Linked DNA regions of Homo sapiens: all the other regions are linked to region 4. Evidence: fine-mapped expression QTL. A gene starts in region 4. Each other region holds a variant in brackets. All regions are shown on one strand. Distances are between the middles of the regions.

The links. PIP is the estimated chance that this variant, and not a neighbour inherited with it, causes the effect. A credible set is the group of variants that fine-mapping cannot tell apart.
Region 1: its variant is the best candidate, but not a certain one, in a credible set for the expression of IRX4 in skeletal muscle (GTEx, PIP 0.51).
Region 2: its variant is the best candidate, but not a certain one, in a credible set for the expression of IRX4 in esophagus mucosa (GTEx, PIP 0.59).
Region 3: its variant is the best candidate, but not a certain one, in a credible set for the expression of IRX4 in pancreatic islets (PISA, PIP 0.62).

What each region holds. Positions count from the first base shown.
Region 1 is chr5:2,089,976-2,098,078 of GRCh38, reverse strand. LOC105374618 (a long non-coding RNA gene) reads right to left here. Exons shown (of 13, transcript NR_171679.1): 8 at 1,437-1,553; 9 at 287-840. Among named protein-coding and RNA genes, the nearest start is that of CTD-2194D22.4, 210 kb to the right of the region's middle. The variant G/A (reference allele first, on the strand shown) is at 3,830.
Region 2 is chr5:1,914,857-1,922,959 of GRCh38, reverse strand. No RefSeq gene overlaps it. Among named protein-coding and RNA genes, the nearest start is that of CTD-2194D22.4, 32 kb to the right of the region's middle. RefSeq lists an enhancer at 3,178-3,991. The variant C/A (reference allele first, on the strand shown) is at 3,681.
Region 3 is chr5:1,947,682-1,955,784 of GRCh38, reverse strand. All of the region lies in intron 3 of LOC124901165 (keratin-associated protein 5-5-like), which reads right to left. All of the region lies in intron 2 of LOC105374618 (a long non-coding RNA gene), which reads right to left. Among named protein-coding and RNA genes, the nearest start is that of CTD-2194D22.4, 64 kb to the right of the region's middle. RefSeq lists a silencer at 2,876-3,170 and enhancers at 4,368-5,567, 6,551-7,052. The variant C/G (reference allele first, on the strand shown) is at 4,018.
Region 4 is chr5:1,878,777-1,886,870 of GRCh38, reverse strand. IRX4 (iroquois homeobox 4) reads left to right here and starts at 3,946. Exons shown (of 5, transcript NM_016358.3): 1 at 3,946-4,268; 2 at 4,812-5,063; 3 at 6,037-6,146; 4 at 7,039-7,367; 5 at 8,079-8,094. The coding sequence starts at 4,224. IRX4-AS1 (IRX4 antisense RNA 1) reads right to left here and starts at 3,538. Exons shown (of 2, transcript NR_183257.1): 1 at 3,325-3,538; 2 at 2,222-2,391. RefSeq lists enhancers at 1,147-1,680, 2,230-3,082.

The sequences.
Region 1 (8,103 bases), 210 kb before region 4:
TGGGGGAAGAGAGAGAGAAAGAGGGAGAATAAGAGGAGAGAGAGAGAAAGGGAAAGAGAGAGAGAAAGAGAAAGAAGGAATGAGAGAATGAGAGAGAAAGAGAGAGAGGAGAGCACTCTGTTCCCACACTCAGGTCCCTTCAGGAATGAACACAGGAAACTAGGCTGGACGTGAGGTCACTGTGCCTCATTTATCGCCTGCCTCTAGGAACTGCCACCCTTAGGTCATCTGGGAGATGAGCATGGGTTTTGTGATTTCATGAGGGAAGGAGAGGAAAGCAACCCACCTCAGCTCAGCAAAATCCTCATTCCAGCTCTCTGGATATCCTCGCACTCTGGATCCCCTGTGTGGCAGAAGTCACAGATCACCCAGAACAGGGGAACCTGCATTTTTCTAGCAAATTTGCTATTCCTGCCAGGTGAGCATCCTGCCAGGTGAACATCCTGCCAGGTGAGCATCCTGCCAGGTGAGCAGGTGCCTTCTCTGGCAGATCAATGGCAGCCTTGTGGCTTTCCAGCACCCATCGCCCCCTCAGCCCACTCCATTCTATCACAGGAAGAGCAAATCACATTTTGGGAGATGCTTGGTACCATAGAGGGCATCTCCTTAGGCACAGGTGCTAGGACAGTGCGCAGGGTCACCTGCGGCAGAGCCCACCATGGACCCCCTCCTCTTCTTGGCCCCACAACACCTCATCACAGGTCCTGAGGTCCTGGGAGATGCAGACCCTGGCTTTCCAGCCACGGCAGCACTCAGTCACTGTAGACGTGGTCGCCAGGGGACGAGGTCACAGACATTCTTTTGGTGTCGTCCGCTGGAGATATGATCACATGCTCAACCCTGAAGCAAGAGAAACAAACTGAGAACAGAATTGGAGGCGGGAACGGGGAGAGCCGCTACGATCCACCAGCTCACCTGTGGAGAGAGAACCAAGGAAAAACAGTATTGATTTTTTTTACAAGCCAGTGCACAGATTTGTCAGACAAAAGAATAGAGATGTCAACCCCTGGACCCGCTCTCCAGCACGGCAGGCCTTCAGGCGGCCAGAGCCAAGGCGGCACTCCGCGACTCCTGCACTGGCTGCAGAGGGGATGGGCAGTTTGATGAAAGAAGGAAACGCCAGCCCTCGCACGGATATGCGTGTCAGTAACTCCCACCTGAGCAGAGCTCAGAGATGCTTCCAGCACAGCCCAAGAGAGGTGGCTCCCTGGTCTCAGCATCTGCCGAGGTTACCTCTCTCCTCTGGGGGCTGTGGGAGGCGCTTCTGCACGGGGTCACAGGAAGGTTTTGGATGTTTACCTGAAGGGCGGTTCTGTTAGAAAACTCCAAAACCAACGGACATTTTAGATTTCAAAGAGAATCCAGTACAACGTATTTTCATCTCCTAACCCAACAAAAGGGAATCTGAGCTGATTATTAGAAGTTTACTCTTTTACCTGGCAGGGGGCAAAGAGCATAGACATCCCCAGGTCTCCAGATGCACAGGTGGAGGAATTCGTCCACTAACGCACCCTCGGAACAAACACCTGAACACACAGGAAAACTCGGTGTATCTGGAGAAGGAATGTGTTCGTTAATTGCATTTTTGAATATCTAGCTAAGCACAACATCCCTTTAGAGTCCACCTGTCCTTTAAAATTCTTTCTAAAATAAATCTGACAATTTTCCTGATCTGCCATGCTGAATAGTTTGACGACATTGATCATTTGGGGAAATCGTGGCTGTCAGAGGCCATTCAGAAAATAATATTATGAGGATGAAGGACCACAGGTAGGGAGCCCCATAGAAGAGTTGGAACTGCTTCATTTTTGTGTTTACTCCTTTATTCAGGCTTGATAGGTTTCTCTGAGTTTTACCTTCCTCTTTCTAAGAAGGAAACTGCTGTCATGTAATTTAAAGTTCCCGTTGGTCATTTCTAATGAATAAAAGGTTACGAATGTCGAGTAGTAGTTGGGTGCCATGTAAACTAGTTCAACCATTGTGGAAGTCAGTGTGGTGATTCCTCAGGGATCTAGAACTAGAAATACCATTTGACCCAGCCATCCCATTACTGGGTATATACCCAAAGGACTATAAATCATGCTGCTATAAAGACACATGCACACGTATGTTTATTGTGGCACTATTCACAATAGCAAAGACTTGGAACCAACCTAAATGTCCAACAACGATAGACTGGATTAAGAAAATGTGGCACATATACACCATGGAATACTATGCAGCCATAAAAAAGGATGAGTTCATGTCCTTTGTAGGGACATGGATGAAGCTGGAAACCACCATTCTCAGCAAACTATCGTAAGGACAGAAAATCAAACACCACATGTTCTCACTCATAGGTGGGAATTGAACAATGAGAACACATGGACACAGGAAGGGGAACATCACACTCCGGGGACTGTTGTGGGGTGGGGGGAGGGGGGAGGGATAGCATTAGGAGATATACGTAATGCTAGATGACGAGTTAGTGGGTGCAGCACACCAACATGGCACATGTATACATATGTAACAAACCTGCACATTGTGCACATGTACCCTAAAACTTAAAGTATAATAATAATTTAAAAACAAATGGGTGGTCAACATTCTAACCTCTAAAATAATAGTTTCTGACAATACGATTGCTACATTTTTGAAAATTATCATAGCTAGGTCATCATACTTGGCATATACTCAAGTATGTTCTTTCATGTACATTTCTTAAACATGCATGTGTCTCCTGTGACATTTAGAGAAATGTCTCCTTAGACGCAATATTTCAAACATTAGAAAGTGCGGTCGCCTAAATTGCATTCACAGAGCTCCCTCGGCGGGATTCCTGAGTGCGATCCTGGGCGATCCCCCCACCGCGGTTTCTGGAAGACTCTGATGAACGCATCCACCAATGGGTGGGGAAATGAGGTCAGCATCCTGTGGTTCAAGGATCCTAGGATCAGTGACTGGGAGTTACAGGTTTGGGCATCACTCAGCATAAGTGGCTGTGAAACCCTAGGGCAGCGTCCCCTCTGAAAGCCCATCTGCTCGGACATGAAGTGCAGAAACTTGGGGTGAGTTGGGACACAGCTGGCTGCCCTGCCCAGCCTTGAGCTTTGGTTTTGCAGGAAGCCGGGTCCCAGCTAGTGGAGCGGGCTGCACTGTGGCCAGGGCGAGGGCCCAGCCCGGCTCCCCACCCACCGTCTGGTGACTGGGCCACGGCGCTGGGACTCGAGCGCTCCTAGTTCACAAGCCACCACCTCTGATGGGGAAACCAGACAGACGTGGCCAGAACTGGAGCACACCTTGTCCTTTCCCAGCCAGGGGACGCCAGTGTTCCTGTGGCCGGGGCCAGGGCTGGCCTGGCCGCCTCCTCCCCGATCCTGTCTCCTCTGGTGATGAGTTGTGTTCTCTTGGCAGTGGAACTCCCTAGAGAGTGGAAAACGTCATGCACTGACAACAGAAACAAAGTACAATGTTATCATGCAGTCAATATTTGATGGCCAAAGGCACAGTAAGGAATAATCTGAGTTAAAATAAAGCAGGGAATTGGATACATCAAAGAGTTTAGTGTTATCAGCCATTAAGGAAGGCAGCAGTGAGGCCACCACACAGCAGTGGCCTGGACAGACAGCCCTCCGTGCAGGCGTGTGCCTGTGAGCACCTACACATGCGTGGGGCACACCGGCTCCGGCGTCACACACTCCTGGACGTCCACTCTTGGTGAATCCTCACACAGACCTTTCCTGCCGGGATTAGGGCTTCCTTTCGGTTTTGTGTATCATGTGACACCCTCTGTCACTTGTGAGTGGCTTCCCACCATCTGAAAAGGTGCAAACTCATGGCCCACATCAAC[G/A]ACGCCCCGTGCCAGGACGCTCTCCCATGTGAAAGCTGGCTGAAGTCCTCGGTCTGCCCACGTCAACGACACCCCGTGCCAGGACGCTCTCCCATTTGAAAGCTGGCTGAAGTCCTCAGTCTGCCCACGTCAAAGACACCCCGTGCCAGGACGCTCTCCCATGCGAAAGCTGGCGGAAGTCCTCGGTCTGCAAGGCCATGAAGGAAAATTCTAGTAACTAATTCCCACCAAGTCATCATTTAAGAATTGTTTTGAAGTTCTGCTGGAACACAGTGTGCATGGGTTTATATTACATTTTTGTTAGCTTTGTAAGTGGTGTATGAATCATGTTTGTTTTTATAAATGGTTGCTCTGGAGTTGACAATACACAGCATTAACTTATCAAGAATACCCAAGAATAACAAATAATATGGCATCACTTCCCATGTAATTTAATAATCTTACAACTGCCTGGTTCCATTTCCCACCTCCCAGCCCTTGTGCTATTGTTAGCAGACATTTTGCTTCTACTTATAAACCCCAAATGTATTATTATTACTGTTTAAAACAATGTTCAATAAAGAGATTTCAAAATACGGTAAAACACGCTTTGTATTTGCTGATGCATTTTACACCCACTCCTGTTCCTTTGTGTAGACCCTCATTTTTATTTCTTATCATTTCCCTCTGTCTGGAAACCAACTCTAAAATGTCCTTTAGTGCCTGGTGGTGCCGGCTGCTGACAGTGGCGTCTCTCTACTTTTGTATGTCTGAGACAGTCTTCACGTTGCTTCTATTTTTTAACAGCCTTATTGAGGCTGAATTTATATAAGAATTATACAATTGATATATACATTATACACATTTAAAATATAAAATTGGATAGATTTTTAAAGATGTAAAAACCCATAGAAAACACTGAATCTATCAAAATCAGGATATTATCCATCTCCTTGGGAATTTGCTTTGTGATAATGTTTTGAAATTGTTCCTTCTTACTCCTCCCCTCTCCCCCACCCTCCCTAGGCAATCACTGATTAACCTCTGTCTCTAGAGATTCATTTGCATTCTCTGTAATTTTATAAAATAAGATCATAATTATGTATTATTCTTTGTCTGGCTTTTTGGCTCAGCATAATTATTTTGAGATTTGTCCATGTTGTATGTCTCAACGGGTTTTTTTTAACCTTTATATCACTAAGTATTACTCCCCTGAATGGATGTATTAGTTTTTATCCATTCACTTGTTGATTAACATTTGGGTCATTTCTGGTTGTTAGCAATTACAGGTAAAGCTTCCATGGACATTTGTGTTCAAGTCTTTATAAACACACATGTTTTCATTTCTCCTGGGAAGTACATAGGGATGGAATTGCCATGTCAGATGGTAGTTATGTGTTTAACTTTTGAAAAAAAAACTATTTGCAGTATATTCATAACTGTGAATACACTTAATGTCACCGAACTATGCAATTAAAATAGGTTCGATGGTAAATTTTATGTTGTGTGATTTTTACTACAATTTTAAAAATAAAAATAAATAGATTTGAATGAAAAAAAATTAATGACAACACGTCGCCTCTCTTAGACTAGTCATTGTGCCATAATATCCATTATTTGCATCTATTACTAACGTAGTGAATACTTTTGAAGATCCATAAATGCTCTTAGATCAATAAATTCAGCTATTTCACTTTTTAATTACAGTATGATCAAGCATTTAGATCAATAGTAAAAAAGTCTTCCTTTGACTGATTGTCTCATGTATTAAATAGTAAAAACTGTCTTCATTTGACTGTTTCATGTATTAAAATATTATTACACATTATATATGATTTAAAAAGGAAATATACTATATCAGACCTTCAGGAAAATTTGACCTAGTTTACAGGAAACAAAAGATAATATAATTGAAAATTCAACAAAAGTACCCAATACAAGATTTTGACCAACAAGTATAGAGTATTATATTAAAAGATTCTTCACAATAGGCTGAGGTGGGCTTCGTGCCTCTGGTTTCTGCTGCGGTCTCATCTCAGTCTGCCAGGAACACTGGAAGCCATTTAACACCCGCTAAGATTTGCTTCTCCTTCTCCAGTCCTTTCTGATGTGATGTTATTCACACTTTTCTTTCAAGGACAGAATGCAGCTACTCACTTTAAAAACGTGCTTTGGAGCAGGAACATCTAGGGACACTGCTGCCTGATGGCCACTTAAGTGCTCAACCAAGCAGCTGTGTGTGGCTTGTGTGAAAGACTCAGAAGCAAGCTGCCAGGTGAGAAGGTCAGTGGGAAAAAGGAAAACTCATGTTAAATATGTGTGAAATGTGTGTAGAAAAGGCAGGCAGAACAAAGCTGCCTTAGAAATTCTATGAAGTCTAACACTTTGTCTAACACCCACATATTAAGTATTACACAGTAGTGTTTTGTCATTTATTGTATAATCCATACTTACTTACCTTTTGTTTGAAAATGTTTATATAATTTTGCAATAAACCCCTATACCATTAATAGGCTCAAAAAATAATATTAGGAGATTTTAAATAAAAATGGAAAATACAAAACTAAAAAAAATATAAAACTTTTCCAAAGCGGTTGTAACATTTAATATTTTAACCAGTGACATGTGAGCATTCCAGTTCCTATACAGCCTCACCAGCACCTGGCGTCATTAGTCTTTTTAATCTTAGCCATCTAATAACTGTGCAATCATGTCTCATTGAGGTTTTAACTTGCATTTCTCTAAGAGCTAACGGTATTGATCATCTTATCATGGACTTATTTTCCATTCACACATTTTCTATGGTGAAGTGTCCATTCAAACCAATAGATCATTTTTAATCACTGTCTCTTTTCATTTTATAGAGTTTTAACAGTTATCTAGCTAATCTGGTTAAAAGTCCTTTGCTGTATAAGAGAAGCAAATATTTTCTTCCAGCCAATGGCTTGTCTTTTCATTATACTAGCTGTGTTTTTCAAAGAGTAAGTGTTTTAATTTTTATGAAGTCATATTTATCATATTTGCTTTTATAGACCATGCCTTTCTTGTCATATTTAAGAAATCGTTGCCTAACTCAAGGTCACGAAGAATTTCTCCTAATTCCTTCCAAAAATGTTATGGTTTTAGCCTTTACATATAAGGCAATAATCTATTTCTGTGAGATGTATGGATCAAAGTATATTCTTTGCATGTGGCTATTTAATTGTTGTAGCGCCATTTCTTTAAAAGGCTGCCTTTTCTCTGCTAAAATGCCTTTGCATTCCTTTTAGAAATCAGTTATCTCTATAGGCTGTTGTCATTTTCTGGACTCTCTATTCCATTCCATTTATCTAGTTGTCTAGCTTGATGCCAATATCACACTTTCTTGATTATTGTAGTTTTAAGTCTTAAACTAGTGTTCATCCTTCAGCTTTATTCTCTGCTTTCAAAGTTGTTTCCACAATTAAAAGCCCTTTGCAATTTCAAATTAATTTTAGAATAAGTTCATCAATTTCTACAAAAATAAAAGCTTGCTAGTACTCATTGAGATAACATTGAATATGTAAATTTGGGAAGAAATTAAAACAATACTGAATTTTTAATCCCAAGAACATGATATATCTCTCCATTTGTTTAGATGTTCCTTAATTTCTCTTGGTGATGCTTTATGGATTTTAGTACACAGGACTTGCACATTTTGATCTGATGCTATTGTAAATAGTCATTTTTAATTTTAATTTAAAATAATTCATTGCAAGGATAAAAAAGATTGCTACTTGTATATTTACATTGTATTAAGCAGTCTGCTAAACTCATGAGTTTTTGTAACTTTTGTGTACATTCCATAAGTGTTCTTTTACAGATGATTACTATGTCATCTGAGAAGAAAAACAGTTTTACCTGTTCACTTACAATCTGGATGCCTTACATCTGTTTTTATTTCTTTTTGTGTCATTTGGGGTTTCATTGATTGATTGACTTTTTTTATTTACTACATTAGTTATAATGTCCAGTACAATGTCAAGTACAAGTGACAAATAAAACATCCTTGTCTTGGGAGAAAAGAATTTAATGTTTCACCATTAAAGATGTTAATTATATTTTTGCGTTTGGGGTTTTTTAATCCTCAATTTTTTTGTTAGATGCCCTTTATCATATTGAGGAAAAGTTCTCTTATTCATAGTTCTCTAAAACATTTTTTAAATTAGCAATTGAAATTGGTTTTGGTAAAAAAATGGTTTGGAATGTTGAGACAGTCATATTTTTTTTCCCTAGGGTGTCTATATAATAACTTGCATCTATTTTTTATGTTAGGC
Region 2 (8,103 bases), 36 kb before region 4:
GCCCCGATCAGGCGTGGACGCCGCATTCACTGGAGACCCTGCTCCACCGAGTGGAAGGAGAAGGCGCCTCGTGATGCCTGGTTGCCCAGACCCCATCCAGTCATTTGCTAAATTCCCACTGGCTCCGAAGAGAAAAGTCTGGAAGTGCAGTGGCTGGAAACCGGAGCCCACAGTAATGGCCCCGTGGTCTGCTGAGGTTTTGCCGATGGTTTCCAGAATGGGAGGAGGGGTCCCTGAGCAGCAGCGGTGAGTCCCTCAGAGGGCCGTGGCCGGGCACTCGCTCAGACGGAAGTAACAGGGGTTTTCTCACCTGGCGCTGAGGATCCAGGTATGCTAATGGAAGGACACGTGAGCCCAAAGTCCCTCTAGGTCAGAAACTTCCTAAGCAACTTTTATTCTTCCAAACTCTGGTCTTCAAAACTACAGGTGTAAATCTAAGCACATTTTCCAATGGATTATTTTCTTTTTTTTTTTCAGACATAGTCTCAGTCTGTCGCTCCAGCTGCAGAGCAGTGGCACGATCTCGGTTCACCGCAACCTCTGCCTCCCGGGCTCAAGTGATTCTCCTGCCTCTGCCTCCCGAGGAGCTGGGATTACAGGCTCGCACCTCCACGTCCAGCTGATTTTTTGTATTTTTAGTAGAGACGGGGTTTCACCATGTTGGCAAGGCTGGTCTTGAACTCCTGACCTCGTGATCCACCCGCCTTGGCCTCTCAAAGTGCTGGGATTACAGGCATGAGCCACCGCGTCTGGCCTTCCAGTGGCCTTCATTCCAACATTGGGGGCTGATCACAGGTGAGGACCAACTCTGGATAATTTAAGTCAGCTACGTCAACCCACCAAACTTCCATGAAAAAATACTCAAAAGACACAAGGAGGAACAGGAGGCTCTGAAGCCTCCTCGGCCAGCGTTGGCTCTTCTTTGTTAATGTTGAGACTTCCTGAAGTGAAGGTGCACACTCCTCAGCACTCTTCCGGGTGGGAAAGCCGAGGAAAAGGCGGCCACACGCAGACCGGCACACAAGTGCGCGTCACAGCGTTATTCATGACAGACAGAACGGGAAGCCAACTGAACGTCCATCAACTGGGGGATGAGTAAACAACATTTAGCCCGTCCGCCCCGTGGAACACCGCCCCGCAGTAAAAAGGAAGCAACTCTGATTCAGGCCGTGTGTGGATGAGCCTCAAAACATGATGCTAAGTGAGAACAGTCAGGTCCGTGAGAGGCCATACTGAATGACTCCAGCTATGTACAATCTCTAGAAAGGGAAAAGTTATAGAGGCAGAAAACCACAGCGGCAGATCAGCGGCTGCCTGGAGCTAGGGGCGTGGAGCGCGGATTGGGAGGGGAACAGGAGAGGTTTTTCAGGGGAGCAAAATCGAGTGTTTTAAAACTGGATTGTGATAAATTGATTAAAACCCATCAAACAGATCTCTGAAAACTGTGTGGCATATGAATTATACCTCAAGGAGACTTAAAACTATACTGAGGGACGATTGACAAACAGGACTTCTGTATCTCACCAAACTTTCCATCAAGCTTGAAAAAGTTATTTTCAGACAGCCAAGATTTAAAAACAAACAAACAAAAAATGGCATCCATACCCCGTTTCGTAGGCAGCTACTGAGAGACATGCTTTAGCAAAACATAGAAGAAAGAGATGGTAGGCCGGGCTTGTTGGCTCACACCTGTAATCCCAGCACTTTAGGAGGCCGAGGCAGGCAGATTGCCTGAGCTCGGGAGTTCTGCAACCAGACTGGCCAATATGGTGAAACCCCGTCTCTACTGAAAATACAAAAAATTAGCCAGGCATGGCGGCGTGTGCCTGTAATCCCAGCTACTTGGGAGGCTGAGGCAGAAGAATTGCTTGAACCCGGGGGGCGGAGGTTGCAGTGAGCTGAGATGGCGCCACTGCACTCCAGCCTGGCAACAGAGCAAGACTCCATCTCAAAAAAAAAAAAAAAAAGATAGTAAATAATGAAACAAGATACTAAATCAAGCCTGACAGGAGAGCCAGCACAGAGTGGAAACTCCCACAGTGGGAACTCCAGGGACCCACCAAGGCAGCGCTGCCAGAAGAAGGGGGCGGTGTTCCTGGTGGTTAGGAAGCTATCAGATAATTTAATATGTGTGGACACTTAGAATCGTTATTGCATCAGTAATTATGTGGACAGATAATAAAAAAGGAAAACAATCATGCAAATATTAATTCCAGGAAAAATGAAAAGCTATATAACAGAAGACAAAGAATCACAGTGCATAACTGAGCTTAGCAGTAAATAAATGTTATTTAGCCAAAACTAGTGATAGACGTATGAGGAAACAGGGAGAGTCGTGCTAGAAAAAAGATGTCGAGTGTAAGAGACTTAAACTTCAACTACCACAGGAAGAAGTCCATAGATACGGTCTAAAAACAAGACATCAATAAGTAGTAGGGTATTATATTATTGGAAATATAGAGACAAGTCGCTGAAGAAATAAGTAACAGAAAACAGTGGTGCTGGGGAGCAAGACTCGAGGGCATGTGGCTGGGATGAGGGGCTGGATTGGATTTTGTTATGAACCTTTTAGTAGTGTCTGACTTTTTAACTATGCTCAGATTATTTTTTCAAATAAAACTATTTTGAAAAACAATGGCCTCAAGCAAAATAAGTAATTACAATCAACTTTCTCTATCATTTCAAAAGAAAAAGGACATTTTAATGTCAAAAACACTTGGAAAAACAAAAATTAATGTGAAGAAACACCAACTCATTTTTTCTTACTTGCCTCATTCTGCTGCAGATCAATGAGCACTTCCTCAGGGACTGGTGGCCACGCCCAATCAGTGCCATCCTCAAGAAAATGGTCAAGTAGAGGGAAGAAGTCACTCCGGGGTGAGGCTTTCAACAAGGGCCTTTTTTGTCTTCCTCCCACTTTTCCCACCTCTTGCCTGGAATGCAGAGGTGGTGGCTGCAGCCTCAGCAGCCACACCAGGACTGTGAAGCACACTTAGGAAAGACGCTGGATGAGGCGGGGTGGAAGGATGGGAGGAGCCCCAACACCGGAGGAGTCTGCAGCTCCCATGTAGCCCTGGGCTGTCCACCTCCAGCTTCCTTTGGCATGGGAGAAGCTGTGTGCAGTTTTATTTAAGCTGCCGTCATTTCCAGTGTCTTTTACCAGCAGCCACACTCTCATCTTTGTGGATGTGGCTTTGTGGACCATCTGTTCTACTTTTCTTCTTGCCTAGTGGCAGTCCAAGCTTTCCCTCTGAAATCTCCAAACAGGAGTCCATTTCTTCACCAAAATCTGTGTACATCCTCAGAAGCCAGGCAAGGAGCTAAGGCCTGGAATTCATCACTCTCTAAAGTGGCACTTTCCTATTTCAGCACACCCTCATTAAGAAGCCTTTTTGAATATTGACCAGTGAACCGCATTTTCACCGATTCCCACCCACCCACTGCCCTAACTCTGTCCTTCAGCCAAAGGTGCTGAGTCACCACGCTCTTTCCCAGAGCAGCACTGGATACGGGGCTAAGCAACACCCGCAGCACTCCCAGCTTGACAAGTCAGGTGTGAGTGGTGCTGGGATGCTCCAGAGGGTGTTCTGTAGGCAAAACCAGACCTGAAGACCCTCCGGCTGCAACTCTGTTCCAGCAGAGCCGTGCCCCTCTCTGCTGAAATGGCAGCTCCCAGGGCA[C/A]CTGCTCTGAGAGGTCGGGCACCATGGTCGTGTTGAACCATGGCCCCCAATAAATGCATCCACATCTTAGCAGAAGTGCTTTAGTTGAGGATGTGAAAGGGGGAACGTATCCTGGATGAGCTGCGTGGGCCCTAAACCCAGTGACAAGTGTCCTTAGGAGAGTGAGGCAGAGGTGGACAGACACAGGAAAGGGAGGAGACCACGTGAGGGCAGAGGCAGAGACAGGCCATGCAGCCACATGCAGGCACACGGAGGGATGCCTGGGCCACCAGAACCTGGGAGGGGCAGGAAGGAGTCTCCCCTGGAGCCTTCGGGGATCGAGGCCAGCGACACCTTGATTTCAGACTTGCAGACTGCAGCACCCTGGGAAGGCGATCCTGCTGTTTAAGCCCCTGGTCTGTGGTACCTGTTACATGGACACAGGGCACATGTGCACCTCCTCACATCCCCCCAGCCCCATGCACGTTTAGGGATGCTTCTGTGCTGCTGGGCCCCAGGAACCCCCGCGCTGACCCGGCTGCCTCCCTGCACTCAATCTGGGAGTTGCAGTTTTGCCCCAGGTCTGCACCCCAGTCCCCCAGAGGCGTGCAGTGGGACAAACAGCCCTCCATGGGGGGTCCTCCCTCTGGGGATCAGGGACAGACTCCCCAGTGCCAGGGGCTGCTGCTTAGGACCACACACTGTCCCCAGACACCCTCCCTCCCCGGCGCTCCCAGCATAGCACTCAGGATTCTCAGCCAGAGAGAGCCCTCGGGGCTCTGTGTCCGGGGCCCACCGTCCTTTGATCCCCTCGTGGCCGGGCATTCACATGAGCAGCCGTAGAAACTTTGGGTTCCCCACAAATGGCCTGCTCTACCCACTTGGCACCACATAGATGGCTTATAAGCCTCTATTTCCATGATTCATTATTTTTCTCATGAAAAGTTATCAGTTCTAAAGAGTCCACCTTGCAGGGATGAGGGTCTGCCTGGCAGGATGCCATCTGTACCTGACCCCGGACACACCGCAGAGACAGCCTTGAGAAGCCAGCACACCCAGGATGAGCCGAGGGCCCTGAGGAACGTGCACTCAGATGCACTGGGAAAGCACAGAGGTAAGGATTACAGAAAAGATGGAAGTCGCTCCTAACAGCTGTGTTTGTCCAGTTTAACTGACTTAAATTTCAATTATTTTAGTTAAGACAATGTTGCCTTTTCAAAGATTAGATGAATCTGATCTTTGTTTTTGCACTTCCTGTCTTTGCAAATAAAGTTTCATTGGCACAGAGCCATGCTGACGTGTCACCTTTGGCTGTTTTTACGCTACAACGGCAGAGGTGAGTAGTTTAGACAGAGACCATATGGCTCTCTAGGACAAAAGTGTTGACTACCTGGCCCTTTATAGAGAAAGTTTGCTTACCCTTACGACAGACTAACGAGAGGAGAACAGTGGTACAGGCGCAGTGCAGCCACAGCTCGGAACACCTGGCAGTGGCATCCTAGTAAATAGGGTTACATCATAGTTATTAAATAAGCCTGGAAAGGGGGGAGACACGGCCAAAGGTCTTGTCTGTGGCTCTCTCTGAATGGTGGGATTACAAAGAGCTTTTAATTTTTTCTTGAATTTTTTTCTGTAGTTTCCAAACTTTGTACAATGAGCATTGTTATTTATTTATTTATTTATTTATTTATTTATTTATTTATTTATTTGAGATAGAGTTTTGCTCTGTCACCCAGGATGGAGTGCAGTGCTGTAATCTCGGCTCACTGCAACCTCCGCCTCCCGGGTTCAAGCGATTCTCATGCCTCAGCCTCCCAAGTAGTTGGGATTACAGGTGCACACCACCACACCCAGCTAATTTTTGTATTTTTAATAGAGACGGGGTTTCACCATGTTGGCCAGACTGGGCTCGAACTCCTGACCTGAGGTGATCCACCTGCCTCGGCCTCCCGAAGTGCTGGGTTTACAGGCGTGAGCCACCGCACCCAGCCTGTAATTTTATTTTAAACAATTTTTATAACAGTTGCCATCACCTAGAACTGCCCCGTGCGGCCGTATTGTCCTTAGGAGGCAGAAGCTTTCCTTGAGGGCATCAGGTAAGGAGACCAAGGGAGAGTGGAGGTGGATGAGAAGCTGTAGGAGGCACCCTACAGAGCGGGCAGCTGGGAGGAGACAGAGGGCAGGGGAGAGCGAGGAGTGAGCAGGGAGAGGAAGAAGGGAAGGGTGGAAAGGGAAAGAGAGGGAAGAAGAGACGGGGAGAGAGACAAGGGGGAGGCACAGGGGGCGACAGGAGGGAGAGCGAGAAGCAGCCCAGGGCGGCTGCGTCTGTGAGTCTCCAAGACGAACAGTCACAAGAGCTGGTGTCCACCCGGTTCTCAGGTACCAAGTGCAGCCCATGTCCCTCCCTCTCCAGGGCACTAGCGGCTGAGGAAGTGGAGGCACGGCATGGAGGAACTTGCTGGGGCACTACACCAGGAGAGGCCAGCTGGGGTCTGAACACAAGGCCTGAGAGGGGCAGCCGCCAGGTTTACCGCCTGGCATTGCCCGGTGGCAGGCAGTGGGGATAGAGCAGAGCTGAGGGACGGAGGTCCCAGGACACCTCTGGCTTCGTGAGGCCACATTTCACGGAGAATCCGCCCCTTCTGTCTCTGGCCTGTGTCATGACGGCATCGCCCATCTGGACCAGTGGACAGGCATCCACATTGTAATCCCTGGGCCTGGCCTCGGGACAACATTCCATGAACCCTGTTTCAAAAGTGTCACCTCCAAGAGGCCTCCGAGGAGGGACAGCAGAGGGGCATGGCCACGTGGGATCCGTTCGCGAGTCCAGCTGTGGAGACGTGGGGCTGAAGGAGGTGCCCACGGCAGGGATGCCCCTCTTTCCTGGGAGCCATCACTGCTCCCCCTGGGCTCCCACTCCATGGCTAGTTCTGAAACGCCCCTGCAGGGGAAGCTGCCCCCTCCTGTGTGTCGGGGACCACCCCAGCCTCATCAGCCGGCTCATTCCAGCCCATGCTGCCTGGTGGCCCCACATGGTACGGAGCCTCCTTCTGGTTCCCGGAGCAGGGAGGGCTGTGGGCATGGGCTCACTTGCTTCCTCTTTGGAACCCCCCCACCCCAGAACCCCACACCTGGAGAGCCCTGGCCCAGCCCCTGGGACGTCCCGCCAGTCCCTCCTCTCAGCAGGGTACAGGTGGTTAGGGCACAAGCACAGGTACCCCACAGGTTGTCTGTGCACGCCGTAGGTGTGGGTGGGCGACAGCTTTGCTTGTCCCCAGTGAGCAGACCCGGTGGTCTTGCAACCTGAGAGCTGCAAGGCACCCTCCATGTCCTCAGGGCCTGATGGAGATGGGAAGGGCCAGGCCACGTGAAGGCCATCGTGCCCTCAGTATCTTGGCACTCTGGAGGGCCAGGATGTCACCCTTCAGAGACCATCTTGGGGGAAGTTCTGGGCCAAGTCTTGGGGCACCTCCCTCCCGGGGCAGCTCTGAGGCTTCTGTGGACCCCGCCCCCCACCCCACTCTGCCCCCACTGAATGAATCAAGGGCGGAGACCGAAGCTCTTACTCCGAGGCAACTCAGCTTTACATCTGGGGCTCCGGAGCCATCACGCTCCTTGCTGAGGACTTTGTGCGGTGGGGAAGCTCCATGCAGTGAGGACCCTCGAAACCTTCCAGCCTAAAGAGCCCGAGCTAGAAGAGGCCTCAGCACATGGGGGCAGGAGGGCTGCTCCCCAGACGCAGGGCGGCCCCCATGCAGCTCCTGCTCCTGTGTGGCCTGTCCCACCCATCCCCTGCTGTCCTGACTACTTGGGGGCAGCAGTGGGAGTGGGGGTGGATTCTGTCAGGCATTCAGCCTGCAGGGGCCAGGGAGGGTGGACCAAAGGCTTCACACACCACATGTCAGAATAGAGGTTCCAGGCACAGCAGAGCGTGGCCACAACTCTACTTCCAGGCCAGCTCTGGAAATAGAAGAACATATGGCAGGATTGCAGGACCTCTGGGGGTGAGGAGAATGATGGGGGACCCAGAGGTGGGGGTGAGAGTGATGCGGGGACCCGGGGGGAGGTGAGAGTGATGTGGGGACCCAGAATAGGGAAACCCCTATTCTGACATGTGGTGTGTGAAGCCTCTGGTCCACCCCTCCCCAGTGAGAGCAATGCGGGGACTCAGGGGGAGGTGAGGGTGATGCGGGGACCCCAGGGGGAGGTGACAGTGATGTAGGGACATCAGGCAGAAAATTCAGTGACTCGCACTATGGGCCACTCAGCCATAAATGTGTGCCACAGAGTCCAACAGGGACACAGCCACAGAGATCCATGGAAAGAAATGCTGGCATCTTGCTCTGTGGCTATACCTGCCCATCCCTGACTTCTAAAGGTTTTGGGAGGATTCACTTGTTTGGAGATTTGAGGCCTGCTTCACTCACCTATTGCTGTGTCCTCT
Region 3 (8,103 bases), 69 kb before region 4:
CACACCCCACAGAGGTTCATGCATGTGTTTACCAGAGGACATGTGTGAGAATGCTCCTGGGTGGAGTGTTCACAGTATCCCCACCCTGGAAACAAGTCAAATGTCCATCAGCAGTAGGAAGCATTTGTGCAAGGCAACACCTCCACAACAGTCATGAGGAAGGAGCTGCACAGAAGCAAGGGTGAATTTCATTCGTATCATTTTGAGTTAAAGAAGCCAGATGGAAAATAATACATGATACATAATCCTATTCCTAGGAAGATGCAATTTCTTCCTAGCATCGATGGTCTTTACAATTTGGCATGTTTTTGCAGTGGCTGGTACTGGTTGTTTCTTTCCATGTTTAGTGCTTCCTTCAGCTCTTGTAAGGCAGGCCTGGTGGTGACAAAATCTCTCAGCATTTGCTTGTCTGTAAAGGATTTTTTTTCTCTTTCACTTTTGAAACTTAGTTTGTCAGGATATGAAATTCTGGGTTGAAAATTCTTTTCTTTAAGAATGTTGAATATTGGCCCCCATTCTCTTCTGGCTTGTAGAGTTTCTGCCGAGAGATCCGCTGTTAGTCTGATGGGCTTCCCTTTGTGGATAACCCGACCTTTCTCTCTGGCTGCCCTTAACATTTTTTCTCTCATTTCAACCTTGGTGAATCTGACAATTATGTGTCTTGGGGTTGCTCTTCTCGAGGAGTATCTTTGTGGTGTTCTCTGTATTTCCTGAATTTCAATGTTGGCCTTGCTTGCTAGGTTGGAGAAGTTCTCCTGGATAACATCCTGAAGAGTGTTTCCCAGTTTGGTTCCATTCTCCCCGTCACTTTCAGGTACACCAATCAGACATAGATTTGGTCTTTTCACATAGTCCCATATTTCTTGGAGTCTTTGTTCATTTCCTTTTACTCTTTTTTCTCTAAACTTCTCTTCTCACTTCATTTCATTCACTTGATCTTCAATCACTGATCCCCTTTCTTCCACTTGATCGAATCAGCTACTGAAGCTTGTGCATGCATCACGTAGTTCTCGTGCCATGGTTTTCAGCTCCATCGGGTCATTTAAGGACTTCTCTACACTATTTATTCTAGTTAGCCATTTGTCTAATGTTTTTTCAAGGTTTTTAGCTTCCTTGCGATGGGTTCAAACATCCTCCTTTAACTCAGAGAAGTTTGTTATTACCCACCTTCTGAAGCCTACTTCTGCCAACTTGTCAAAGTCATTCTCTGCCCAGCTTTGTTCTGTTGCTGGCCAGGAGCTACAATCCTTTGGAGGAGAAGAGGTGCTCTGGTTTTTAGAATGTTCAGCTTTTCTGCTCTGGTTTCTCCCCATCTTTGTGGTTTTATCTACCTTTGGTCTTTGATGATGGTGACCTATAGATGGGGTTTTGGTGTGGATGTCCTTTTTGTTCATGTTGATGCTATTCCTTTCTGTTTGTTAGTTTTCCTTCTAACAGTCAGGTCCCTCAGCTGCAGGTCTGTTGGAGTTTGCTGGAGGTCCACTCCAGACCCTGTTTGCCTGGGTTTCAGCAGCAAAGGCTGCAGAACAGCAAGTATTGCAGAACAGCAAATATTGCTGCCTGATCCTTCCTCTGGAAGCTTTGTCTCAGAGGGGCACCCTCCTGTATGAGGTGTCAGTCAGCCCCTACTGGGAGGTGTCTCCCAGTTAGGCTACACGGGGGTCAGGGATCCACTTGAGGAGGCAGTCTGTCCATTCTCAGAGCTCAAACACCATGCTGGGAGAATCACTGCTCTCTTCAGAGCTGTCAGACAGACACATTTAAGCCTTCAGAAGTTTCTGCTGCCTTTTGTTCAGCTATGCCTTGCCCCCAGCAGTGGAGTCTACAGAGGCAGGCAGGCCTCGCTAAGCTGTGGTGGGCTCCACCCAGTTCGAGCTTCCTAGCCGCTTTGTTTACCTACTCAAGCCTCAGCAAGGGTAGATGCCCCTTCCCCAGCCAGGCTGCCACCTCGCAGTTCCATATTGGACTGCTGTGCTAGCAGCGAGCAAGGCTCTGTGGGCATGGGACCCACTGAGCCAGGTGCAGGATATAATCTCCTGATATGCCATTTGCTAAGACCACTGGAAAAGTGCAGTATTTGGGTGGCAGTGTCCTGATTTTCCTGGTACAGTCTGTCATGGCTTCCCTTGCCTAGGAAAGGGAAATCCCCTGACCTGTTGTGCTTCCTGGGTGAGGCGATGCCCCACCCTGCTTCAGCTCACCCTCCGTGGGCTGCACCCACTGTCCAACCAGTCCCAGTGAGACGAACCAGGTACCTCAGTTGTAAATGCAGAAATCACCCGTCTTCTGCATCGATCATGCTGGGAGCTGCAGACCAGAGCTATTCCTATTCAGCCATCTTGGAACAGACCCATATGACTGTCTTGATAACAAATGATTTCCAAAGTATGTTATAATCCCATTTTCATGAATTAAATATTTCCCCCGAGTCTACTAATTTTCCCCCAGAATTTCCTAACACAGTAGACTGGAATTCTCTAAACATCCCTGCCTTACTGAAAATGAGATGAAACTATATTAGTTTTACCCCCAAAAGGGAGAGCCTGAGAGACATGAGCTTTCCTCCTCTCCCACCCCAGGTTGGGTGCTGTGTGTGGGATGCCCGGGTGGGTGGGTGAGGGAGAGGTGTGCAGAGAGGCGCAGGGCCCAGCGCACCGGAAAGCCAGGGTGAGGCTCATCAGACAGTAAACAGTGAGGAGGGCGGTCACCAGAAAGCCCCTATTTCCACAGTGGTGTTCCACTCTGGGCCTCCGTATATGGTGATCATGGGCGCAGGTCACCATGGCTTCAGAAAGGATCAGGTCTGTGCACAGAGCCCAGTCAGAAGCTACCGGGAAGCACTGGGAGCTCTGCTGGGTCTCACCTCTGCCTCCTCCCAGCCAGCTGCACTGAGACACCAGGGCAGCCTGGAATCCACAGATGCGCGGCAGAGCCTGGCCGAGCCATTAGAACACCCCGAAAACAAGTGTTTTAAGCGGCTGACTAAATTTCAGGTCTGCTCTTTGTCTCCTTCCAGGGAACCCTGAGATGAGTCCCGCAGGAAGCAGCTTTTCCCGGCTTCCCTGGAATCCAGGGGAGGCTCTGGGCTGCCGGATTGTCATTCAGATTGTAGTTCACAGGAAGCACCAGAGGCAAGGCTCCGCTTCTCCTAAACAAACTCCTGGGATCTGCACCGCCTGCCTGTGCTTAACCTCATACAGCGGTCATCCACTGCACCTCTTTATGTCATCCTGATAAACTCCTCACTCCGCGGACCCCGGCCTGCCAGGCCCCATCAGGAGAGGCAGCGTTGGGCAGAGGAGGAAGCTCGCTGGGACTCATTTGCAATTCCTGACATTTCTAAGGACCTTAGTCCACACGGGGAGGACAAGCACAGAGCTCGTGTAACAGTAACCGCCAAGGCCATGAGAAGAGGAACAGAAAGATTAGGCTGTTTCCTTAACTGTTTTTGAAGTTTCTAGGAAGAGCCCATTCTGCAGGACACCATCGAGACCCGGGGTGCACGGTGGCCCCTCCAGCCCCGCCCCTCAGCCAGGGACCCTCCATCCTGCTCAGGACCAAGGCACCCCCCGCCAGCCACATGCCCCAGGGCCCCAATCACCTCCTAGCATGTCAGGAAATTATGAAAGCAAAATTAATTTCCATCCTCTTCAGCTTAAAGAAAGAAAAAATGCTACATGGTTAATAGAACACAGGGAGCACATGCTGACATCAAACAGGGATGGCACAGCCCCCAGTGGGTTTGGACTTCCACGCCACCCACCCCCGCCGCACAGGTGCTGACAGCACAACCCGCACAATGGGTACACAGACGGTGACCATGGAGGACGCCTCCCTAGGGGACAAAGGGTGCTGGGCTGGGAGCAGGGACTGCCACGCCTGGTCTCACAGGCCACACAGGAGATGAGGAATGGGTGGAGGTGGAACGTTCTGGAGTCCTTGGAGGGAAGGGTGCTCAAATGCATAGCAGACGATGCACGTAAGCAGACAATGCACACACACACACAGCAGACAGCA[C/G]AAGCATGCACAGCAGACGACGCACGGCCCACAGCAGACGACGCACACACCCATAGCAGATGACGCCTGTGCCCATAGAAGACAATGCATGCATGCACAGCAGATGACACATGCACAACAGACAACACATGCACGCACAGCAGACGGCGCATGCATGCACAGCAGACAACACACACACAGCAGACGATGCACACAGGCACAGATGGCACACGCACGCACAGCAGATGATGCACCCGCAGCAGATGGCACACGCACAGCAGATGACACACGCACAGCAGATGACGCACGCACGCAGAGCAGACGATGCATGCACAGCAGACAATGGACAATGCACACATGCACAGCAGACGGCACGCACACACAGAAGATGACACACGCACAGCAGACGGCACACGCACAGCAAACGACACACGCACAGCAGACGACTCACGCACAGCAGACGGCACACGCACAGCAGACGACTCACGCACAGCAGACGGCGCACGCACAGCAGACGGCGCACGCACAGCAGACGGCGCACGCACAGCAGACGGCGCACGCACAGCAGACGACTCACGCACAGCAGACGACGCACGCACAGCAGACGACTCGCACAGCAGGCGACGCACGCACAGCAGACGGCGCACGCACAGCAGACGGCGCACGCACAGCAGACAACGCACGCACAGCAGATGATGAACACACCCACAGTAGAGGGCACACGCACGCACAGCAGATGACACACGCACAGATGACACACGCACAGCAGATGACTCACGCACAGCAGATGACACACGCACAGATGACACACGCACAGCAGACGATGACGCAGGCACAGCAGACGGCACAAGCACACAGAGCAGATGACTCACGCGCCCACAGCAGACGACACACGCATGCACAACAGATGACACATACACAGCAGATGACGCAGGCATGCACAGCAGATGACACACGCACAGCAGATGATGCACACACAGCGGACGACTCGCGCTCAGCACTGGGTGTGAGGGTAGAGACTACGCCATCCATCTTTGCCTCTCCCAAGCATATTCAATGCGCAACCATAACCACCTCTCTCGTGAGAGCGGCGGGCACTTGGTGAGGTCGTGAAGCTGCCGAGGGGCTGTTTCAGAGCGCATGGTGACTCTGCATGTCCCCGGGCAGGAGGCCAGGGCGGGTGCGTGGTGCGGACCCAGACGGGAAGAAGGAGCTGCCCTTTGCGAGCCGCCTGGCAGGGGTGGGGAGAGCGGCCGCAGCGGTTCCAGGACAGAGGCGTCTCCCAGTGGTTGTGGGATGTTTTGTGCCGCTTCACACAAAACAGCACAGGATGCCCTCGGGCCCAGAAGTCGTGGCATGGGCTGGGAGCAGAACCTAAAATGCCCTCATCTCCCTTGGTGTCCTGGAGACTTGGGATGTGGTGAGGGAGAAGCTTCATCATCCTCACGCTCATGGGAGTGTCCCGGGAGCCCCCTGGGGGCTGGTCAGCAGCTGCTAGCTGCACTCTCAGGACCAGCTGGGCTGGCCGGTCCCTCTTCCCTCCACACCGAGAGGCCCTGGTGGCCGATCAGCTCCCCGGGACTCTGTGAACTTGGAGCTGTCCTGCACGTTTTCTGCACCCCTGGAGCCCCGCTGAGGACCTGGCACTTGACGGAACCCCCAACAAACGATGGAGCGAGCGTGTGGTTCCGTGAGCATGGAGAGGGCAGGTGTGAACCACGTGGGGACACTTCCCAACCCGCTCATAACCCCTAGCACCCTAAAGATTTGTGAGTTAAGTTTCTAGTGTGTGAACAAACCCAAGTCACTGCCTGAAAAAAAGCTGACAAAGACCAGATTGTGATTATTGGATCGAAAAGGCCATAAGAGTGTACTTGGATGCTAACGCAGAGGAACAGAAAGTCATTCCCTCCCACAGGAAGTCTGCAAGGACCACACTGTGTTGAAAACTTTAACTCCAATTCTCCCCAAACATTTTTCAAAGGGCACACAATATAAAATCAATTTAAGAAATCATTCAATTCAGCCACAGCTCTTTTCCCGGCATTATGTTACATATGCTAACAGGTCAGCTTAAGTAGCATTTCTTACATGTTGTCCACTAGAGACACAAAGATGAACAGGACCAGGACTTGGGGCTTCCCTGAAGACCCTGGGACCCCAACCAGGGAGAGCTGCCCGAAGCCCGCCGGAGGCCGTCTGCAGGGGTCTTTCCTCACACACTCCACTGTGCCCCTGGAAAGCACCGACAGCCAGCGTCATGGAGTGGGTGCCCTGGGCATGGCAAGATCACAGACAGCACTGCCCTGGGCGGGCACCCCCATCCCAGGGTGTAGGTTCGCATCGCCCCACCCCGCAGACAGGGTACTGAGGCCCACGGTCGCCAGCTAGCCGGGGCCAGAAACTACGCTACGGTCCAGCCGGTCTGAGCCCCCGCAGGGATGCTGCAGCCCTCAGGGCAGTTCTTCAGAACTCATGATGCTGACAGCCCTAGCCGGGGTGGGACACCCAGGAGCACCCAGCTCACCTGTGACTTTCAGAACTTCCAAGGCACCACACTGGGCACAGGACCAGGGCCTTAGGACTCAGCCTGGAAACACAGAAGGAAGGACCACAGACAAACCCGGAAAGGGCCCAAGAGAATTGGCTGCATGTCATTCAGGACTTGGCTGTGCCGGAGCTCCGTGTCCACAGCTGAGCAGGCGGCCGGGAGGGCCCTGCACGGATTCAGTGTGGGCATGCAGGGTGGCAGACACTCGGCACAACTTGTCACCTGATGCGAAACACTCGCCAGGGCTAAGCCAGTCCCGTGTGACTCCCGAGAAGGCAGCACTCCGTCCCTGGCGCACGGAGCAGGCGCTGGCTGAGAGCCCGACACGGGCCCGGAATTCATCAGTCACGTGTTCCGAGGATTCACCTAAACTTGCCTGTGAATCCCCAGCTTTGCAGTGCACGGTGCCTCAGAGTAAACACACCCGAAACTTCAAGGGATGTGCACCCGGTATTTTGTTTTTTGGACCAGTTGACGTGGTAACACCTGCCCTGTTAGAGTCATCCATGACAAGTCTGAACGCTGCAGGGTGTTGCAATAATTTCTGAAAGAATGGAAAACACTCCGTGTTAGGATAATCTGACCCCGATTAATCCTGACAGAGGCTAAACTCTTGAGGCAAAAGCTGAGGATGAGAAATGAATACACATCTTTAAACACAACCCAACACGGAGGTCTCATGGCTATGCCCACGCTCTCCTAAGCACCTTACGGAAAATAAAATTCTGGGCTGATTTTTACATTAAATGAATGAAAATCTTAAAATGACCTGTGATAATATAACTAAATCTAACAGCACGCTGTTTCTTCTGGGGGTTAGTAGACTGAAATGTCTGTAACCTACTGAGGAAAAGCAGACAGAGTTCTGAGGAAGCACCCAGCCTCCCGGAACACAAATCCCGCTCAAAACAGGAAACCCAGCAGAACGGCCCTCCTTGATTGCTGCAGGCCCTCGGGAAAAAACCTCCTGTTGTAAGTGTGTTCTGAAGTGTTGCAGTGACAAAAGGTTTTCCCCAAGGGCGTTTTAGGTTAAAATAGATGAGACCACGGGAGAAACATTTAGGATCCTAATTAAAGAGACTGTAGAGGCCAGGCGCGGTGGCTCACGCCTGTAATCCCAGCACTTTGGCAGGCCGAGGCGGGCAGATCACAAGGTCAGGAGATCGAGACCATCCTGGCTAACATGGTGAAACCCCATCTCTATTAAAAACCTACCAAAAAAAAAAAATTAGCAGGGCATGGTGGCAGCTGCCTATAGTCCCAGCTACTCAGGAGCCTGAGGCAGGAGAATGGTGTGAACCTGGGAGGCAGAGCTTGCAGTGAGCCAAGATCACACCACTGCACTCCAGCCTGGGAGACAGAGCGAGACTCTGTCTCAAAAGAAAAAAAAAAAAAAAGAGAGACTGTAGAGGGCTGCAAATTACAGTCACTAATGATCCAGGTCAGGCTTTACCCCAAAAAATACCATCGCAAAGGAAGGAAACTGCTTTAAAGTAAGCACATTTTGTAGCTGGGCATGGTGGTTCACACCTGTGGTCCCAACTACTTGGGAGTCT
Region 4 (8,094 bases):
CCAGCTCAGGTAGGGAGTGGGCTCCGCCGCACAAACTTTGCGAGGATTGCTCTTGCGCTTAAGGGGACAAAGTTTGCTACCCGTCGCTAGGCTCTCCAGAGGCCGCTGCGTTTGCTGCAAGTTGCGGGAAGCAGGGTGCGCGGGCCGGCGCGGGGCGGGGGGTGGGGGGCTCGGAGTGGCCAGGCCTGAGTCCTGGACGCCCGGACGGCGCTCCGTCCAGCCTCAGGCCGTACCCAGGGAGCAAGCGGCGGGGGCGCAGCGGGAGAGAGGAGGGAGAGGGCCGCGGGCCCCCATGGAGGGCGGTTGGGAATCCAGAGATTCACCGCTTGTCCCTGTGGCTCCTTCTCCTACCACTGGCTCCGAGGGGGCCTCGGGGCTGTGAGGAAATGACCTGCCAACCTCGAGGTTCGCCAGTGCGGCGTCAGCGACCGTGAGGCCTCTCAAACCCACACCCCAGCCGGGTGTCCCGAGCGGTGGGCGGGCACAGGCGCCCCCAAGGTCTCTGGCCCCAGGTCTCAGAAAGAAAGGCCCTTGCCTGGTGCCCCGGGCTCCCGGCTTCGCCTTTGGCTGGAGTTAACTTCTCTGGGCTGGAAGGAGCTCCCTCCGGACGAGCTCTTGGTGCGGGGAACTGGTGGCCCCCAGGGTAACTCCTGAAGCACCAGGGCTAGGCTGGCCGAAGAAGGGTCAGGGCCCGGCCTGTCTCCCCGGAGGCCTTCCATGGTTCCGACGGCCAACGGTAACCCCGTCAAAATAGGCGACCCGCCTGCGCTTCGCGTTAGGGGCTGACCATCCCCTGCCTCCCCTGCGGCCTGCTCCGGCCCTGGTCCTCCGCTCTTCGGAGCGCTCCAGGCCAGCGGGAGCACCTCATCTCCCCGAAGCTGAGCCGGTGCTGTGTACTCCGGGAGCCGGCTGACTTCTGGCCCACCTGCTCACGGGTGTATTTAGTACCGGGGGTCCCTAGAGGGAGGAAGGCTCAGCACTCCGAGTCTATGCAGACGCGTTCAGCTGATACCTGAGATGCTGAGCGTCCTATCGTTGGTGAAAGGGACACTGGGTGCCTCCGCTCCAGGCTTGGCCTTTTGGTGAAGGCACTTGGAAAATATTCCAGTATTATCTATGGGAGAAGGGTGGCCCAGTGAGAATCCCCGGTTTGGGCAGGCGGGCCTAGGCCAGGCTACAGGGTTTCAGTGAGATGTCCCGGTGGTCGCCAATCCACAGGCTGGATTGACCCTGTGTCCTGGAATGAGTAGTGGGGCCTGGGTGAGGCCGGGCGGGTCAGGAGGCCTCCTGGGCAGTTGCGAGCTTCCCGAGGCAGGGTGACTGTGACTGGGCCCGGACCCCAGGCGCTGGGGCCTGCTGGCGGGCAGGAAGTGGAGCGTGTGTGTGCGGCGGCCTGGGAAAGCCGATTCAGAGGCCAGGTTTCTGGGTCACGGAGAAAGGGTCGCCCGCTGGTGGGGACTGGAGCGTCGATTTATGCACACAGGCTGGAAAGGCAAAAGAGAACAGGAGAAGGTGGCGGTGGTGGTCAAAGGAAGCCCCCGAAAGGGCCCCCACGTACTGGCTGCCCTGGGAAGTGGAGGCTGCTTCTCCCAGACTCTGCTCAGAAGATGAATGGCCGCCTGTTCTGGGGCTTCGGCTCCAGTTAAGCCCCGCCGGGTCTGGAAGGAAGGAAATGCACCAGCCTCAGGTCTGGGTGGGCTGAGCTGTTGCACTAGAGCCCAGAGGTGCAGGGCATAGGTGGCTGGGCCCCTGGGCCCTGGCTCTCCCCCTCAGCCGGCGGAGTGCTCACAGTCGCCGAGGCCAGGTCCCCGAGTATAGGTGAGGAAAGGACAAGCCACAGCTGAATGCCTCCCCTCTGGGGGTCTCTACTCCCCATCCCAGCCCTTGGCCCGGCTGGGCTCACACCCCTCCTTCAGCCGGGCCTCATTACCTGGAGAGAGCGAGTAGTTTGTAAACAATAAATAATGGGAAGTAGAAGGATGCTCGGGAAAAACCAGAAAACTGCAAGGAGTGGGGAGGAGGGAGGGTGGGAGAGGGGAGGAAGGAGGGTGGGGGAGGGGAGGAGCAGGAGGAGAGGGAAAGGGGTTGAGAGATTCATTTCTAGCGAGAAACCCCGGTGGCTAGTTTCTTATTATTTACAGGAAGGTGATATTAGCGATTCAGGTGAGAAAGAAAGAAACGCGGCCTGCCGCGAAATCAATACAGAATTCAGAAACAATTATTAATGTCATTTGACTCGTGTTCTTTATATATTTCTCGCGGCTACCGACGCTAAACTGTCTGAATAATTTGCATGGAGCGGCTATTCATTATTTCCGATGGTTTCCCTCTGCAAGCAGCTCGGACGTGGCCCGCTCCGGTCCAACGCGATCGGAGAACTCGTATTTTCATCTGTAAATTAAAGCAATTACGCAGCAGATATTATATGATGTGTACTGTGGTCTCCAGATAGTCATCAATCACCTTCAACCGAGCTGTCAAAAGAGCAGGCAGATTTCGTTTCTGGGAGGCAGGCTTGCAGCTGGGGAGAGGGCGAGGACGTCATCATTAATTAGAGGGTGACCCTGGGGCGATTCACAGGTCTGAACCCAGGAATCTTTCTGAGCAAGTCTGCACAACGCTGCCTTGCACGGCTTCCTTCCCAACTTACCACGGGAGGCCGGCCCAGGGGGCGAGGGCAACCGGGGCGAGTCCCGGTCCCGGAGGGCGATGGCGCAGAAGGCGGGGAACGGGTTCGGGATGGCCCGGGCGCCCCCTTGCCGCCCCCTTGCCGCCTGCTCACTGGCCTCCGCTTTGAACTTGGGCAAGGTCCCAGGGAGGGTACTGGCCGAGGGAGTCCTGGGGTGGGCGCTCGGTCCCCTCTTCCGATTGCTCCGTGCGCCCCAGACAGAAAGCTGGGCAAAATGGACAGGGGAGGGCGCCTCCGCCAGGCACCCAACGCCCCCTCCCTCGCAGCCAGCCCTGCGGGGCGCCGGGAGGGACGAGCTTAGCGGGAGGGGCCGGGGCCTGGGTTGAGGAACCTGCTCTTCCGAGCGCGCAGGGCCGCCCGGCAGTCCCCGGCTTAGCCGCGAGGGGCAGGGGGAAGCCGGCGGAGCACGGCCGGCGGAAAGGGGATCGGGGAGGAAAGTCGGGGAGGCGAGGTGGGGGCGGTGGGCTGAGCGGGAACTTAAAAGACCGCGGTGGAGAAGATGGGGCGTTCTCCGCGACACTCGGCTGCCCAGAGGTGCAAAGCCGGTGGGCGCACGCCCGGGGCGGCCCTACAGCCCTCGGGCCGCCAGTCTCAGGGTGTCGGGCTCCAACTAAGGCCCCGAAGCCCCCACGCACCTGAGGGCATTTTGACCAGCTCTTGCGGGCTGTCTTGCGGCCGCAGTGGGTTCTGAAAGTCCATTCCGGCGTAGGGTGGAAACCGGCGGGAGGCGTTGCTGATTCTCGATTAAACAATAGTGACGAGACGCGTGCGGGGCGCCTGCGAGCCCCTTCCTGCCACTCGGAGCAGAGCGCGCCAGCGCGAGGCCGGGCCGGCCGCCTGCGCAGCGCCGGGCTAATTTTAACTGTTGATTACATCTTCAGCGTGTCCTTTCATAGGTCTCATTTGTAATTGAGACGAATGATTACAGTGGGGCGGGAAGGAGCAGCTGCTCATTAATTAATTTCTAATTAAAAGTGCCTCTCGTTCTCGGGTGACTAAAGAGAAACACCGTTCGCTGGGCGATATTGACTCGGATGGAATTTATTTGCTAACGCCCGGAGGAATGGCCCCTCCGTCCACCGCGCGGCCGGGACTGTCCTGGCCCCTCCCGGCCTGAGCCGCCGGCGAGTGACCGGCGAGTCTGCGGCCAGGCCGGGCTGCGCGAGGTGGGGCTGACGTCAGAGCCTCCTCCGCTTCAAGCCGCGCACATCTGACTTGACGGGTTCGCGCGACTCGTTTTTTTTTTTTTCTTTTTCGTAAAATATGTATTTCTGTCGCCGCTGCGAGGCCGCTCGGTCCCAGAGCCCCCTCGAGCCTCCGGAATGCGAAGTTAAAGGAATCGCGGCGGCCACCGCTGCTCACTTTGTTACCCGGTTAGAAAAGTTTGCGGAGCGCGGGGATGGACTAACCGGCTCTCCTGCTTCGCCCTCCCAGCGCCTAGAAGCCTGCAGCTCCGGAGCAGTGGCCGCGCCACGCCGGCCCCAGCGCGCAGAACCCTGCAGGCCCCGCCCGTCCGCCCCGGGCCGCGCCCGCCATGTCCTACCCGCAGTTTGGATACCCCTACTCCTCGGCTCCCCAGGTAAGCGGAGCCCCGCCCCGCCCAGGCCACCGCAGGTGCCGGTAGGGCGGATGGGGCGGGGACGGGGGGTGGGGAGTGTCCGACCTACGACTGCCTGCGGCTTCCGAGCTAGCAAGGCCTGGGTCGCGCGCCCCTCACGCCCAACCCCTGCTCCCCAAACCCCCGGGGAAAGGCCGAGGCGCTAAGAAAATCCGACGGGCCGGGCCCGGGTTCCCTGATGTTTGAACCACAAGGCTCAGGCTGTGCCCCAGGGGAGTCCTAGGACCCCAAGGAACCCCTGGGGAAGGAGGCTTGGCGCGCAAATGGCGTCAGAGGCCTTGGAAACCCTCCGGGGAAGGGTGTAGGTGCTCGGCTGGGCCCCACGTGGCGGAGGAGGCCAGACGCGCACAAGCTAGTGGAAAGGGGCGAGCATCCTGGTGTGGACGGCGGGAGGCCCGGGGGTACTCGGGGCACGCCCTCGTGGGCGGCGCGCGGGATTGGCAAGGCCCAGGGCCCCAGCCTCCAGCCCGGCTTCCCGCCAGTCCTCGCGGCCTCTCTCTGCAGTTCTTGATGGCCACCAACTCCCTGAGCACGTGCTGCGAGTCCGGAGGCCGCACGCTGGCGGACTCCGGGCCCGCCGCCTCGGCCCAGGCGCCGGTCTACTGCCCGGTCTACGAGAGCCGGCTGCTGGCCACCGCGCGCCACGAGCTCAACTCGGCCGCGGCGCTGGGCGTCTATGGGGGTCCCTATGGCGGATCGCAGGGCTATGGCAACTACGTGACCTACGGCTCGGAGGCGTCCGCCTTCTACTCGCTGGTAAGTGGGGCATCCCTAGCCCTTGCCCTGCCCCTGGCCCTCGATTTGCCAAGCCCACTTTTGCCCCAGTAGGCGCGCCAGTCCGGGTCCCCGGACTGTCACAGAGGGGAGGCGCTCACCTTGGCTGCCTTCAACTTTGCGCCTCCCAGCCGAGACCCTCAGAACCCCACCCCCACCCCCTGGGACAGATGACCCGGCAGGTGGCCACTGCGTTTCTTGTTTTTGGTTCCCTACTAAATCCTCATCAGCTGGCAGATTCGGTCTGCGTGTGTTTCCCGCTTCTTCCCTCCTGGTAGATTTCCCTCCCTCATTCCCTGACCCCATTCTCCTCTCCCCGCCTCCTTCAGGCTCCTGGCCTCCCTCTTCCTGTCCTCCCAGCCCCTCTCTGACTCATCCTTCCTATCTCCCTCTTCCTCCCTCTCCCCTGCTTTCGCCCCCTCCTTGTTCCTCCCCCTCCTTGCTCCTCCCCCACCCTTGCTCCTCCCCCCGCCTTGCGCCTCCCCATTTCTCTCCTCCCTTCTCCCCTCCTGGCTTCCATCCCCTCGCTCAGCAGCCCCTCCCCTTTCTCCACCCCTTTTTCCTCCCCACTTGAGTGCATCCCAGGGCATCCCCAGCCCTAACAATCCCCACTCCTTCTCCCAGCTGCCCCCTATTGCCGGCCCCCAGTTCTTTCTGGCTTCCCTCCAACTTCCTCCTACTCCACATCCCCGCTCCCCACACTGCACCTCCTCCCCCCCGCCCCCCCCCACCGGCCCGCGCTCCACCACACACTGCTTCTGCAACTCAGAACATCCCCACTTCAGGTTTGCGAGACCAGGTTTTAAAGCAAGCGGGAAATCAGCTCCTTCCTGCCGGGGCGTAGGGCTGCCCAGGAATCCTTGCCAAGCCTTTGGGAGTGGGGGGCTCCTAGGAGAGAGGCTGGAGTGGGGTTGCCTCCCTGGAAACTGCGACCCCAGACTCTTGGCTCCCACAGAACAGCTTTGATTCCAAGGATGGTTCGGGATCTGCGCATGGGGGCCTGGCACCAGCCGCTGCCGCCTACTACCCTTACGAGCCAGCTCTGGGCCAGTACCCCTATGACAGGTGAGGACCCACCCCTCCTAACCAGCACTAGCCCCACGGGCCCTCTGCACTGTCAGCCACCAACTCCCCTCCACCATCATGCCCCCTTTCTGGAAGGCGGGAGGCAGGAAGAGAGACACTCTTAGGTCAGGCATGACCTGAGTCTGTGGTCTGTGGGGTCCAGCCTCCTGTCCCACCTGCTCCTGCACAGCCATGGTTAAAATGCTCCCCAGTCTCCCCGTCCCCCACGTTGTTGGGCCCCAGAAGTCCTAAATGTGCGGCAGCTTTCAGGGAAGTCGAATCTGGAAGGCCCAGTTCACGGGGCAGCCCGCTCTGCAGACTCTGGGCACCTCCTTCCGAGTGTCCACACTGCCCCTACAGTGGGAACAGTGGGGAACCCCTGGTGGCCCTCCTTTCTCTCCTGTCCCACTTTTGGACAGGATGCCCCACTTTCCTCAATGCAACCACTACAAATTTATCCAAAGACGGTACACTTAGGCCCCTTGGGTGCTTTCTCCTCCTGGGCAGTAATGACCCTTCCTGCCACACGTGTTACATCTCAGGGTGTGGGCTTACCTGTCTATACCTTTTTATGGTTTGAGGATCAAACGGCTAGGCGGTCATCCCCATAAAGGAATTGGCCTGGACCTCTCTGGCTTGGGAAGGAGCCCAGGCTCCCTGTAAGTTTAGTCAAATATAATCTTTGCCCTTTGGCCACAGAAGACAAGTGCCAGCAGGCAGCGGCACCTGGTTGGGGCTCGGGTCCTACCTGGGCCTTATGACCATGACCACAACCCCACGACGGGGAAGCAAAGCCCATCCTGGCATGCCCCTGGCCGACCCCCACCCCTATGCCCATGATGCCTGGGGCCCAGAGGGCCCAGCCTGAGCCCATTGCAGAGCCTGTCTCCAGGTATGGAACCATGGACAGCGGCACGCGGCGCAAGAACGCCACGCGCGAGACCACCAGCACGCTCAAGGCCTGGCTGCAGGAGCACCGCAAGAACCCCTACCCCACCAAGGGCGAGAAGATCATGCTGGCCATCATCACCAAGATGACCCTCACACAGGTCTCCACCTGGTTCGCCAACGCGCGCCGGCGCCTCAAGAAGGAGAACAAGATGACGTGGCCGCCGCGGAACAAGTGCGCAGACGAGAAGCGGCCCTACGCGGAGGGCGAGGAGGAGGAGGGGGGCGAGGAGGAGGCGCGGGAGGAGCCCCTCAAGAGCTCCAAGAACGCAGGTGGGTTGGGAGGTTGTCACTGGGGGCTGAGGCCCTGGAGTGCAGGCACAGTGCCTTCTCTGCGGTTCTAGGACGTCTTGGGGGTCCCAAACGCCGAGCCCCATGCCTAGGCGGTCACCGTGCAAACCGGTTCTGCCTCAGGCTACCAATGTGGGGACTGTGGTGGTGACCCCTGAGCATTTAAAGGAACTCAAATCACGTATAAAAATAGTAGGCCGGGCGCGGTGGCTCACGCCTGTAATCCCAGCGCTTTGGAAGGCAGAGGCGGGCGGATCACGAGGTCAGGAGATTGAGACCATCCTGGCTAACACGGTGAAACCTCGTTTCTACTAAAAATACAAAAAATTAGCCGGGCGTGGTGGCGGGCGCCTGTAGTCCCAGCTACTCGGGAGGCTGAGGCAGGAGAATGCCCTGAACCCTGGAGGCGGAGTTTGCAGTGAGCTGAGATCGCGCCACTGCACTCCAGCCTGGGCGACAGAGCGAGACTCCGTCTCAAAAAAAAAAAAAATTAGACACCCCCCTCCCCCATTGGAGGCCCCTGTGTTGCCAGTTTGTGACCTGGTGGCCTCTGGAGGAAATGGGAGACGCGAAGAGAGGCCCCGAGTGCTTTTCGTAGCGTCGGGAACAGGCCTCATAATGGTGGACGGGGACAGGGGGTCTGATTCACCTACCAACCCTCTCCCTCCACTGGCCACGCATTCTCTCCCGCAGAGCCCGTGGGCAAAGA